Linked DNA regions of Homo sapiens: region 1 is linked to region 2. The links come from fine-mapping of genetic effects on gene expression. Tissue or cell type: monocytes. Region 2 holds a variant in brackets; the other region holds the start of a gene. All regions are shown on one strand. Distances are between the middles of the regions.

Region 1 (2,619 bases), 170 kb before region 2:
ACAGAACTCCGTCTTGAAAAAAAAAATCTGTAATATTTACTGAGTGATTTCCATGTTCCAGGCAGTATTCTCATTGTTTTACCTGTACTTGCATTTACCTTATGTAATTGTCTCAAAAACCATGACGCCAGGCACTTAGAGATTAACTTGCTCAAGGTCAAAAGTAAATGATCGTCAGGATTGAAATCCGAGCATTTTTTTCTAGAGCCCATGCTAGTGACCACTATACCTGTGTTGCCTTTCTGGCCTCTGATCTCCAGTTTCCAACAAAGACACATCTGCCTAGCTTCTATGGGAAAGGAAATCGGAGGGTCCTAGGACAAGGACCAATAGGTAAGTTTCCCTTCGCCTCCTCCCTATCCTCTTACAGGAAAACAGGTTTAGGGGTGGATCTGAGAGTTTTCACAGAGTGAAGAGGAAGAGGAGCTCCCAAATGGCAGGCGCCTCTGGAGGCTTCCAGAGAAAAAAGGAGAGAGCGTGGGAAAAGGGCAGGCTGGGAGGTGGGAGCGGCGAGGAACGGGGAGCTGACCACAAGCCCAGGATTCCAGACCAGGCTTATGTCTCTTAGACTCAGCGTAACCTTGGATAAGTCCTTGCTTCTTTCTGAGACTCAGTTTCCCCGTCTGTAAAATAAGGGTAAATATAAAACCGGCTCATCCGCCCCTGCCAAAAGAGAGGACAGGGAGAAGGCCCTGTCTGGGGTCTAGGCTGACACGCTGCAGCTAGGATTAGGTGAGCTTCCGAGCTCAGTCGTGAGACCCCATCCTCATGGCAAGGCCGCGCTAAGATCTCTGGACCTCTGCTTGCTGGGTGGGTGGTTGGGGGCAGAGCATGGGCCAAATGCCCGGCTCTGCAGGCTGCGCCCACTCTTCTCGCACCTCCTCAGCCCTCCCTAAAGGAGTCTCAATCCCGGGGGAGTGGCAGTTGCGGGCGACCAAGCAGTCACCGGCTGCGCTGCGGCGACCTCCCGGGAAGCTGCGGCCGGCGGGGTCCGAAGAGCATCACGTCATCCTTTCCCCCAGGAGCCCGCCCCCTCCCAGACGGCGCCTGCGCAGGCGCGGTAGGAGGAGGGTCACGGTGGGGGCTGTCCACGCGCTCTCCGCCCTTCTCCAGGCTCGCTCGGGCCGCGGCGCTCTCGGCTAGCTGCAGCGGCGGCGGCGCGGAGGGGAAGGCATCCAGGATGCGGTGCGGGGCGGCCCGGTGCCCCCCCGCCCCGTCACGGCAGCCGCGGCGGCCGAGGGGACCGGGCCAGGGCCGGGGGCGGCGGCCCGAGCCGCGGTAGCGGCGGCGGCGGGAGGGGCGGCCTGAGGGCGGACGGGCGGGCGCCCGGGTTGCGGGGGCTCGGTGCCGCTCCGCACTGCCCGGCCGGTCTCGGCCCCGGCGCCATGAGTGGCGGCGGCGGCGGAGGGGGCTCGGCGCCCAGTCGCTTCGCCGACTACTTTGTCATCTGCGGACTGGACACGGAGACCGGGCTGGAGCCGGACGAGCTGTCGGGTGAGTGCGCGCCGAGCCCGGGGCGCTTTCCCGCGCCCGCTGTCGTCGGGGACCCCAGAAGAAACCTTCCTTCAGCCCCGCTTTGTCCCGGGAGCCGGGCGAGTGTCGGCCGGGAGGACCAGGGCGGGCGCGGGCGAAGGGGGCTTTGGACTGGAGGGGGGAAACGGATGAGGGGCTCTGAGCCATGAGGGGTCCAAACCTACGGCCCGCTGCGCAGTGGCCACGTCTTCGGCGACCAGAAAGAGGGAGGGTTGTGTGTTCTCAGTTTGGTGTAGGTTGAGTGACTTCGTTTAAAATAAAGGAAAGCTTGTCCTCTGGCACCCATTAGGGAGGGAAGGCGTCCCACGTCCTAGTGAAAGTAAGTTCCACCCAGACTTAAAAAAAAGGAAAACAAAAACTTGGTGAGTTTATCTGGCCACTTCCCAAGAAGCTTGTGATACTAGTTCCTCAAAACCGTTATACCCCAGCCCTGGGCTGGGCCCCCTGAGTCAGATTGCAGCTCTGCGCGTCTGGATGGGATATGAAGTAATAAAGTGAACTTGGGCGGCACCAAGAAGAGTAGGAACTCCCTTAGCCTTGGAAAGGGCTTGTATCCCGGGGCCATGCCTTTTTTGAAAAGTAATTTATGTCCTTTATGAGGACAGAGGCGTTTGTGAATAAAAGGGTAGCAGCATTGTAGTTGGAGAGGCTTGGTGTGTTCTGATGCGTTTCAAGTCATATTTGAAAGGGAAAGTGATGAGGGGAGTCAAAGATGGGGCCCTGACCAGATTTGGCACTCACTGCAGAAGGCCGTGAAAATTATACAGTCCCCGTGAATTTTCCACTGCACTGTCATTGGAGTCTTTGAATTGTAACAGTTTTGAAAATAAGTTTTTGTCTGGAGTTTCCAGTTAGTGGGTTTCAAGTGGGTGGAGGTTTGTCGGGTTGTACTTTAAGGTTGTGTCATCCTGATGAGGGGGACTCCTTTTCACTTTTCTGTCACTGTAAAGTTTCTCTTTCGAAAGTGATTATCCTGTTGACTAATCTTACTCGGCTTCAACGATGACAAGACAGTTTTGTTTTTGGGCACCAGAAAAAGTCCAGTGTTTCTTTTTTTTTTTTTTTTTTTTTTTGAGACGGAGTCTC
Region 2 (2,755 bases):
TGAGTATCTGTTAGGAAGGAGGAAAGGGATAGATACACAGCCCCCAGGGGTGATGAGGGATGGCGAACCCCTGAGCTCAGGCAATGGGCACAGAGGAAGAGAATGGTTTTAAGAGACAATAAGAAGGTAGAATTTTCTTGATTGTTCGGATGTGGTGGGGAGGGAGATAATGGAGTCCCAGATGACCGCCAAACCTCTGACTTGGTGTTAACAGAATGGTGGTGCCCTTGTCTAAAGGAGAGAGCACTTGAGAAGGAGCAGGTTTGAGGAAGATGAGCTCCATTTGTTTGTTTGTTTTGGACAGTTGGCAGAGCTAGCTGAGATTTTATTTTGAAAAAAAAAAAAAAAAAAGCAACAATTGAATTGTTTTGTAGCTGGAAGCATGGCCAATGGGGGTGCCCCAGGCAGTAAACTCCCCCAGCAGGTGGGCTGAGGGCTAGGGCTGAGCCTCAGGTGAGTCTCCTGTTCCTGTGCTCCACTGCACAGCGGCTTCCTCCACGGGCCCTGGGGCAGCCGCAGGAGGGGCAGGCTGGTAGGGGCTGCCATGGCCATTCACTTGGGCAGGACATCAGAGGACTTGGACACTAGCTTGCCATCTCGCGTTTCCACCTTCTTCACAACCATGGACCTGGAGAAGCTGGCGCGGCTGAAGGAGCTGGAGCCTCCACCAGTGCCAAAGCTGGAGCCCAGGCTGTAGCTAAGGCCTGTTGTAGAGGGCTTGTGAGGTGCCCGTGGGTCGAGCTCAGCCCACCTGAGTAGCCACTGGTGGTCTTCAGATGGACACTCATGTTCTGTATCCCAGACCCCAGCTAGCTCTCCTCGCCCTCCAGCAGCTTCCTGTAGGTGGCGATCTTGATGTCCAGGGCCAGCTTGACGTTCATCAGCTCCTGGTGCTCCATGGCACAGCTGCTGCACCATGTCTTGCTCGGCCCGCTGCAGGGCGGCCTCCAGCTCGACAGCTTCGTGTTGGCATCCTTAACAGCCAGCTCCCCATACTGCTCAGCATCTGCGATGGCAGCCTCCAGGGAAACCCTCTGGCCTTTGAGGCCCTCAGTCTGAGCCTGGAGCCGGCTGATGTTCCTATTAATCTCAGAGATCTCCATCTTTGCATAACGCAGGTCATTCCTATGCTTCCCAGGCAGTGTCTGCAGCTCCTCATACTTGATCTGATGCATGCCCTCAGCCTCAGCCCAGCTGCCATTGGCGATCTCCTTGTACTGCGCCTTGACCTCAGGGATGATGCTGTCCATGTCCAGGGAGCGGCTGCTGTCCATGGACAGCACCACAGATGTGTCCGAGATCTGGGACTGCAGCTCCCAGATTTCCTCTTCATATAGCTGCCTGAGGAAGTTGATCTCGTCAGTCAGCCCTTCCAGAAGAGACTCCAGCTCTACCTTGTTCATGTTAGCTTCAGCCACGTTACCTTCTTGATGAGGACAAATTCATTCTCCATCTCTGTACGCTTATTGATCTCATCCTCATACTTGTTCTTGGAGTCCTCCACCAGCCTCTGCATGTTGCCAAGCTTCAGCTTCTCCTGGCCCAGAGTGTCCAGCTACCGCCGAAGTTTGTTGATGTGGCTCTCGAATATGCTGTCCATGT[C/T]GCTCTGAGCTGTCTTCTGCTGCTGCAGGAGGCTCCACTTGGTCTCCAGCATCTTGTTCTGCTGCTCCAGGGACCGCACCTTCTCGATGAAGGAGGCAAACTTGTTGTAGAGGGTCTTGATCTGCTCCTTCTCCTGGGCGCACACAGCCTGGATGTTGGGGTTCACCTCCAGCTTAAGGGGGCTCAGCAGGTTCTGGCTGACCATGATGGCTGTGATGCCCCCCATACCACTGGCCCCACCATAGCCTCCACCCAGAGCCATGCGGGTGCCCAGGCCACCCCGGAAGCTGCTGCTGCCGCCCACTTGAGAGAAGCTCCAGGAGCTGATATGGGCACCAGGCCCGCTTGTGTAGGAGCGGCTGCTTAAGGCCTAGGGGCCAGAGGTGGACACCCTGTAGGACTTCTGGGTCACCCTGATGGACATGGTGGAGGCAGTAGTGGAGGGGTGGGTGGGCTGAACCAGGCAGAGATTCGAGAAAGCAGAGAAGCTTCTTCTAGGTCATGAGCTTCGTTTTGAACATGTTCAATCAGAGGGATCTAGGGAAGATCAAGGTGGGATCTAGGGAAGATCAAGGTGGTATCTAGTAGGCAACTGGATACATGGGATTGAACCAAGGGGATGAATCCAGGCTGGAGATTGACATTATGGAATCAAGGGAATGAGTGAACCATCCAGAGAGAGGGTATAGAAAGAGGACTCCTAGAAGATGGTGGAGAAGGCATTTCCTGAGAGGTAGGAGGAAAACCAGGAGTTTGCCACGATGACAACCAAGGGTAAGGAGAGTTTCCACCAGGGAGAAGTAGTCCACATGTCAGAGGCTGCTGGGGGCGGGGGGGGAGTCAAGAAAGGTGGGCACTGAATGGTGTCCCATGAGTGCAGAGTGGCACCTGCTTATGTGTAGTTCAGGGGCACGCATGGCCGGCCACTACCAGGCTTTCTTCAGCCTCCTCAAAGGCCCACACCAGTGTGACTGGGCTGGCTGGACTGCCTCTTCGCACCCCTGAGGCCTGGTTCATGGCCTCTCAGCCTGTGGAGAGGAGACAGGGAGAGGAAGAGGGAGCTTTAGCCTCAGTCCAGGGACGGTGTCTGAGGCCTTTCTGAGAAGTTTGTGGGGACCTCAGCTGCAGAATAGAGGGCAGCCTGCAGCCAGAG

The links. PIP is the estimated chance that this variant, and not a neighbour inherited with it, causes the effect.
Region 1: it holds the start of DENND5A, and the variant in region 2 is fine-mapped to the expression of DENND5A in monocytes (TOPMed, PIP above 0.99).

What each region holds. Positions count from the first base shown.
Region 1 is chr11:9,263,836-9,266,454 of GRCh38, reverse strand. DENND5A (DENN domain containing 5A) reads left to right here and starts at 1,105. Exons shown (of 23, transcript NM_015213.4): 1 at 1,105-1,494. The coding sequence starts at 1,386. RefSeq lists enhancers at 804-873, 1,954-2,073, 2,234-2,573 and silencers at 1,154-1,253, 1,304-1,663.
Region 2 is chr11:9,093,743-9,096,497 of GRCh38, reverse strand. It overlaps the pseudogene KRT8P41. Among named protein-coding and RNA genes, the nearest start is that of SCUBE2, 3.5 kb to the right of the region's middle. RefSeq lists enhancers at 183-682, 683-1,184 and a silencer at 886-1,091. The variant C/T (reference allele first, on the strand shown) is at 1,603.